Linked DNA regions of Homo sapiens: region 1 is linked to region 2. The links come from fine-mapping of genetic effects on gene expression. A gene starts in region 2. The other region holds a variant in brackets. All regions are shown on one strand. Distances are from middle to middle. Region 1 overlaps IL1R1 (interleukin 1 receptor type 1). Region 2 holds the start of IL18R1 (interleukin 18 receptor 1).

Region 1 (4,000 bases), 180 kb after region 2:
TCCCTTCCTCAGTGAGGTGTCAGTCTCACTTTGCCTGCAGCACCTCTCAGGAGAGCCGCTCCAGGGTCAGTGACTCTACAGGGTCCCCAGACAAGGCATAGCCCCGCCCTTGGGCTGTGGATGACTTAACTAAGCCATCTGTAGACGGTGGCTATTTCCTTCTTGCCCTTTCTTCTAGTTCGCTGTCTCCATGCCTTTTCTTGGCAGTTCAAACATTCAGAGAGGGCATTTATTGCCCTTTTTTTGAGACGGAGTCTTGCTCTGTTGCCAGGCTAGAGTGCAGTGGCCCAAACTCGGCTCACTGCAACCTCCGTCTCCCCGGTTCAAGCAATTCTCCTGCCTCAGCCTCAGGTGTAGCTGGGATTACAGGCGTGTGCCACCATGCCTAGCTCATTTTTGTATTTTTAGTAGAGATGGGGTTTTGCCATGTTGGCTGGGCTGGTCTCGAACTCCTGACCTCTGGTGATCCACCCACTTCAGCCTCCCAAAGTGCTGGGATTATAGGCGTGAGCCACCACACCGGGCCTACTGCCTTTTTAAAAGATCTTCCCAAGCCCTCTACTCTGAAGTGCCCTGGGCTGCTATTGACGTCATGGCTTATTCCCTTAATAATCTGATTCCAGGTGACCTCAGGGATAAAGGATGATATAGTTACATTCCATGAACTCTGCAAGTCAGCATGAGGCATAACCTGGCCTGCAACGCCATAAGACAGGAGGCACCTAAAGAACTCTTGGCAACTTCTCCATGCTACCCGAGAGGCACGTGAGCCTCTCTTTGCAGTTTCTCCTTAGTGGCTGGTGACAGTAACTGGTGTTTAGATGAAGGTGACCGTCGCTGGACTGGCATGTGGTACCTGACATTCTTCCAGAACCTTGTCTTTGCAGACTGTGGTCCCTGTGTAAAGTCCCCTGACCAGCGGATAGCCCCATGTTTCTGCTTAATGAATTTAATCGATTCTGGCATTTTCTCATAGTCTTGGATTTTCTCCAGCTCAAGCAGGACAACTTTAATTCCATCCTGAACAAGAGCATTATACATGGCTATTTGCTCTTCAGATGAACCACCCAGCCAGCTGAAGCCTGATGTTTCTCTGACTAAAATGATAATCAGTCTTCTGCTTTTCTTTACGTTTTCATTAATGACCTCAACAATGTCTGAAAAACAGGAAGCACAATATAGTAAGTAAAATTCTATTTATCATCATTCTCTCCTGAACCAAAGCCACACAAGGCTTTTCACAACCGTATGGCTCCTAATGCCTTTTTCTTGTCTTACTTAAAATTAAAGGAGTTTCCCATGTTTTTAATTAATTAATTTTAAGAGACAGTCTCTTGTTCTGTTGCTCACACTGGAGCGCAGTGGCGTGATCTTGGATCACTGCAGCCTCAAACTCCTAGGCTCAAGTGACCCTCTCACCCTGGCCTCCCAGGGTTGTACTGAGATAAAAGGCATGAGCCACTGCAAACCTCCCATTTTATAGACTAACTCAAAAATTGGCCCTCAAAAGACAAATATTTCATTTAGAACTCAGAAAACTTTGTTGGAATTTTAAAAACTTATTATTCAATCATTTGATCTCTACCACTCCTGTTTAATTGTATCAGTTGTAAAGCAACTGTTGGGTTTAACTAGTCATTAAGTTTTTCAAAACTAAATGAAAATCACTTAATTATTGCTCTGACAAAATATGAGAGAAGTAAATGCATTTAATAAATGTAAAAATCATCATACACTTCTGAAGAGGTTCTTAAAATTGTGAAACATATACCCCTATGCCACGATCTTCTAGAAAGATGGAATCCACATTTTACTAAGTAGTTTTACAACAATAAGCCTTTACTCTGTTCCATTACACACATACCTTCCCCAACGTAGTCATCCCTTCCATAAATGAACAGCTTATATCCACACTGTTTTTCCAAGACCTCAGGCAAGACTTTAAACACAAAAATATCACAGTCAGAGGTAGACCCTTCCCCAACAGTCTTTGGATACAGTATATATGCGTCATAGGTCTTTCCATCTGAAGCTAAAGGAAAAACATAATGTATTTAGAACCACAAGGCAAAAATAAGAGATTTGATAAAGTCAGTATCACAAACATTCATTACATAATGAACTATTCATCTTTTTTTATACAATGGCATGACTGAAGCAGCAATACCAAAAATATAATCCCTTTAAAAAGTGTTCATCTCTTACAAGGTTTCTATTTCTTGTGTTTTACTGCAAATTTGTTCTTCTATTTGGAGGCTGCCTCGTATACTCTTAGTATAGAGCCATCCTTAAAGTCTCCCTGTCCTCATCTTCTTCCCCAGAGGTCTCAGCCCTGAATTCTATCCATTCATTTTTTTTTAGATATTGTGGTATTCCTTTTTTTTTTTTCGCAAAGTTTAAACAAAGGAGAGAGAGA[A/GAA]CCTCCCTGATGCATGAAGATCTAGTCATTTCATTTCTTTCATTAAGGTATGATCTCTGTCTGTCCTATTCATCACAGAGCAAGGCCTACCAATGGCTTGTGCATAACTGAATTTATAAACAGATGCTCTAAATACCTGTTTATTCTACCAATATGAATGTTGAGGCAGGAACTTAGAAAACAATGATATTCAGCCTAATGAGTTCTAAAACTATAATTCTGTGTAAGAATAACTAGTATTCTTGTATATGCCACTTTTCATTTTAGAAACCCTCTTAGTAAAAACCCTCTTAGTCATCTTCTACATCTCCTAACTATCCCTTATCTCCAACAAGAAATACTGCATGGAATACAAAATTATACCTTTTATTGGGAGAAAATCATAGCAGGAATCCCTGTACCAAAGCACAATGTCAATCTTGAAGATTTTATAGATGAAAACAGAACACACAATTATGACTGTCAACGTGACACATATACCAATCATGTGCTTCTGGAAATTAGTGACTATAGCAAAAAGAAAAAAAAAGGAGAAAAAATATTAGAACCAAAAAGAATTAAAACTTTGAGCACAGCAAATTAAATATCTTCGTCTCAGAGAGCCCATATCTGGGAATGGCCTGCATTCAGACAATATTAACTCATTCATTATTATCACTTTGTAATGGATACTAATGTACAAAGCAATGATAAAACTAAGGTGCATTCTATGAAGTTTCTACCTAAATAGCATAATATACAATAACATGGGAAATAATACCGAAGACCACAGGATAGAGCATTCCACAGTAAAACAGGGAAAAGTTAAAATCACTCAAAAGCCTACAAAAGTTCCCTGAGGTCAGAGAGTCCATTGGGTAAAGTTAAAGACTGGTGGAAAGCGAATAAGGTGGAGGCTTAGGGAAGTTTCACATTTCCACATTCTCCTGGCCTCCTTCTCTACTTAGTTATCCAATAATTAAAGAGGAAGCTGGGGAGCAGATGGAGTAGGTGATGGGGAGGGGGCTAGAGAAGAAGAAAGAGGGAAGAAAAAGAAAGTACCCTCTAAATATCAGGAACCATGTAAAAGCATCCAGAAAAGGGAATCTAAAAGCTTTATTTACTTTTCCAATTTAAATGATTTGGATATAAAACAGAAATCAAGTTATACCATTTTCCAGACAAATATCCAGCTGGCCCAAATGATAGTTCACACTTACGGTCTTAAGTACTGTCGCTTCATACAAGATCATGATGTCTGTAGTAATAATCCTCCAGATTTATTTTTCTTATTTAAGACCACCATGACTATACTTGGTCCTTTACAGTTCCCTATGACTTTTACAGGTGTCCACAAAAACACACCCATACAAACACTGACTCTCACTTGTACAAATACTGCTGAGATTTTGATTGAAATTTTTTGGAATCCATAGATTCATTTGGGGAAGAACTGATATCTTCATAATATCGAGTCTTTCAATCTATGAACATTGTATATCCTTCCATTTAGTTCTTCTCTAATTTATCTCAATATTTTTTAGTTTGTATTACAGAGGTTTTGAACAGCTTTTGCTAGATTTATTCTTAAGTATTTGATGATTT
Region 2 (4,000 bases):
ATGAGGAACCTGAGATTTGAGGAAGTGAAATGGCCAGCCTCAGATTACAGCTATTCACAAGGACACACATGAATCAATGTAGATGCCTCAATATAAATCACTCATTAGCAACACATACAATCGAGCAACTCCTGAGACAAAATGCCTGGATGAAAATCATAACACCAGTTTTTTTTTAATATAATTTTTCTTCTACAGTGTTCCATGCATAGTCGTTTTACTCAGCCTGTGAGATGATAAAACAACCAAATGCAAAGAGGAGAAAATGATCTTGGGGCATAACATACACACACACACACACGCTTAAACTCTAACAAACAAAATAATTTGTGTGGAATCTGGCTTCTCATCTGTAAGGCCAAGAAAATCAATGCCACCTCATAGTCCTTGTCACACAAGTGTCTGTTGTTAGCCTTATGCTTCCCCCCAAATCTGCCTATGCCTGTGCTACCTGGGCCACCCTCCCCACTTATCCCAGATGCCAGGTCCCTAGAGTCCTTTCAACTTGGCTCAGTATTTGCCTTCTCAAGGAAGCTCTCCAACTGCAACAGCCCCAAATGGCACATGCCTATGTCCAAGCCCGTCTCCATCACTCTGCAGGTGTTTCCATCACTCCTGGACTAGCTCCCACTCTCTGGTGAGGTCCCTGAAGGCAGGGACCCTGCCTTTTCTTTTTTTTCTTTTTTTTTTTTGAGATAGAGTCTCACTCTGTCGCCCAGGCTGGAGTGCAGTGGCACAATCTCTGCTCACTGCAACCTCTGCCTCCCAGGTTCAAGGGATTCTCCTGCCTCAGCCTCCCGAGTAGCTGGGATTACAGATGCATGCCACCATGCCTGGCTAATTTTCTGTATTTTTAGTAGAGACGGGGTTTCACCATGTTAGCCAGGATGGTCTCGATCTCCTGACCTCATGATCCGCCCACCTCAGCCTCCCAAGTGCTGGGATTTAGACCCTGCCTTTTCAATCCACATTCCTAGGCCTTAGCCTTAGTTCTCAGCCTTTGGATGTATATTTGTGCAGGGAGAGGGAAAACACTGTCCCCAGAACCTGCACAAACCCAATTCCCCAAATTTACCCCTCCTAGCCCATCCAAGGCCCTGAGGTTGAGAGGTGTGCTCCCAATAGCAGCACTGTGTATGACACAAAATCAGTATTTGCAAAGGGTCTTGAGAATGAAGCAAGGGAAGTCAGTGAAATGAATACAATAATCTTGGATCTCTGTATCTGGCTGCAATTGACACCTCATTAATTTGTCTGATAACTGCGATGCAAGGTGCTGGGCATTTTAACTTCCCAAGGCTGGGCAGAAAAAAGACAAAGGCTCTGGAATCAGAAAAACTGTAGGTGTGGATCTGGGATCTACTACTTAGTAGCTGGATACTCTTGGGTAAATGACGGAATTCCTCCTCCCTTTTATTAAAGCATAATAATAGTTCCTATTTCATGTGGCCCTTAGGAGGATTAAGTGAAAATAAGATATCTAAAAATTTTCTACAGTGTCAGGCACACAGTAAGCACTTAAAAAATGACAACTATTGTTATCATTTATTTCAGTCGTTCTCACCTCTCCAGAAAATAATTGGGGATGTCTTAATTTCTAAAACTATACTTTCAGAGAAAGACAGGATGCTGTCTCATCAATTATTCACACGTATTCACACACACACTATCTCTCTCTCTCTCTTAATTGATCTTGTTTTGAGAATCCCTCCCCGGATGGTGGTCTTCCCTTCCTCTGGGGGGTGGGGAGGGGATGCGGGTGGCAGCGGAGCCCACCCTTACCTTCAGAGAGGCGTCCCCGAGGCTGGGGCGGGGGCGGCAGCTCCTCCTTCACGCCAGGTCGCGACTGCGGAGGCCAAGTTCAGAAAGTAGGTGAGAAGCAGCGATCTCCGCCTCCTGACTACCGTGGAAAGTGAAAGAGAGGTGTGATTAAAGAGATAAGGCACCCAGAGAGGGCTACAAAAAAAAAAAAAAAGAAGAAGAAGGAAAAAAAGTAGGAACAGAAAGAAGAATGTCAGGCGTCTGGCAGCTCCTGGCTGCTAACCCCGGCCGGTGGAGGCTGCAGGTGGGCACTGCCCGCGGTCGGGCGAAGCTCCGGGTCCGGGAGTGTAGCGGTCTGGGGCGCTCTCAGTCTGGGGCGCTCCCTGGCGTAGAATCCTCCCTGACTCGGAGGTCCCGGTCTGGGGACCCTCCGGTCCGGGTGCTCCTCGCAGCCGTGCTCCAGGACCGGCTCCTCCACCCAGACGCCCCGCGTGGAGTTACCGGAGCTACTGGATCGCGGGGTCCAAAGGTTGCTGCTGGAAAACCCAGCGCCTTGCCCTTTTCCCGCGGACGGCGTGGGCCCCAGGCGTCTGGCGCTTCCTGCCCAGCCGCGCGGCGCGGGTCCCGGGAAAACCCGGGCTGTAGCCGGGTGACCTGCGGGGCCGGAAGGGGGCGCGCCCGGGCCGCTCGCAAGCACCCTGCAGGCCGCGGTTCACAGCAGAGGATGCCAGGAGGGAGGACCGCTGGCCGCAGCGGCCGCCCGGCTCTTCAGAGGAAGAGGAGGGGAGGGCTGAGGGTGGAAGAGGGGTCCCCGGGGGATGCCGAAGGTGAGAGGGGCTCCGCGTCTCAAGTACACAAATGCGCCCCAGGCTTTTTGCTTTCCCAGAAGGATGGGAGTTCACTATAGGGAAGTAATAGAGAGGGGTGCAATTGTTGAAGTTTTAATTTTTTTTAAGGAGGCCAAAGGGGAATGTGTGTTTCTAGATTTTTATTTTGTGGCAGAACTGTTATTTAACCAAAGGAAAAGGGAAACCCATAGCCGACAGGCAAAATGTTCAATTGGACAATGATTTTAATTCTTTTTACCCAATTTAGATAATTCACCACATAATAAATAAAAATATGTAATTATCTCAATAAATGCAAATAAAAGCATCTGGCAAAATTCAACACCCTTTCTGAATTAATAACGATCAGAAAACCGAGAGTAGAAATGATCTTTCTTAATCTGATAAAGAACATCTATAAGAAACCTACAGGTGACCTCATAATAGTGAAACATTTTACTTTTTCCTAAGATTAGTAATGAGATAAGGATTTTGGCTCCCACCTGGGACAACTGCTTTGCAACAAGTGAAGAAATAAAAATAAAATTAGAAAGCATAAAGATTGAGAAGAAAGAATTAAAACTACTGGTTTTAACAGAGAGCATAATTATATGTAGACCAACTTTTGAAATCTACAAAAAAAAAAACTACTGGAAATATTAAGTTTATCAAGATCATGGAATATAAAAATCAATAGCAATTCTATATATTAGAGATGGAAACTTGAAAAGTGAAGTTTGTTAAAAATGCCATTTACCATAGCATTTAAAAATCAAAATACCAAAGTATAAATTCATTGGATAATATATGAGATATCTCCTGTGAAAACTACAAAATATTGCTAACAGAGATGAAACATCTAAGTAATAAAGGGATATACCACGTTTACGGATTGGAAGACTTAAGACATCTATTCTCCACACTGTATATTTTTAGACTCTATATATTACAGAATCTATATATTTAATACAATTCAATCCAAATCCCAGGAAAATTTTTCAAAGAAATTAAGAAGCTGTTTCTAAAATTCATATGAAAATGCAAATAATCTAGGATTGTCCGGACAGAGACGGAGTTTTGCTCTTCTTGCCCAGGCTGGAGTGAGTGCAATGACGCGATCTCGGCTCACTGCAACCTCCGCCTCCCGGGTTCAAGCGATTCTCCTGCCTCAGCCGCCCGAGTAGCTGGGATTACAGGCATGCACTATCACGCCTGGCTACTTTTGTATTTTTAGTAGAGACAGGGTTTCTCCGTGTTGGTCAGGCTGGTTTTGAACTCTCGACCTCAGGTGATCCACCCATTTCAGCCTCCCAAAGTGTTGAAATTACAGGGGTGAGCCACCTGCCCGGCCTGTCTGGGCAATCTTGACAAAGATGAACAAAGTTGAGAGACTTATACTGACTTGAGGATTT

What was found. PIP is the estimated chance that this variant, and not a neighbour inherited with it, causes the effect. A credible set is the group of variants that fine-mapping cannot tell apart.
Region 1: its variant is the best candidate, but not a certain one, in a credible set for the expression of IL18R1 in thyroid (GTEx, PIP 0.76).

What each region holds. Positions count from the first base shown.
Region 1 is chr2:102,173,510-102,177,509 of GRCh38, reverse strand. IL1R1 (interleukin 1 receptor type 1) reads right to left here. Exons shown (of 12, transcript NM_000877.4): 10 at 2,780-2,923; 11 at 1,865-2,032; 12 at 1-1,157. The coding sequence ends at 751. The region is part of intron 2 of IL1R1-AS1 (IL1R1 antisense RNA 1); the gene reads left to right. Among named protein-coding and RNA genes, the nearest start is that of IL1R1-AS1, 6.6 kb to the left of the region's middle. The variant A/GAA (reference allele first, on the strand shown) is at 2,417.
Region 2 is chr2:102,354,183-102,358,182 of GRCh38, reverse strand. It overlaps IL18R1 (interleukin 18 receptor 1), which reads right to left and starts at 2,387. Exons shown (of 11, transcript NM_003855.5): 1 at 1,783-2,387. RefSeq lists silencers at 2,333-2,392, 2,413-2,522 and an enhancer at 2,117-2,618.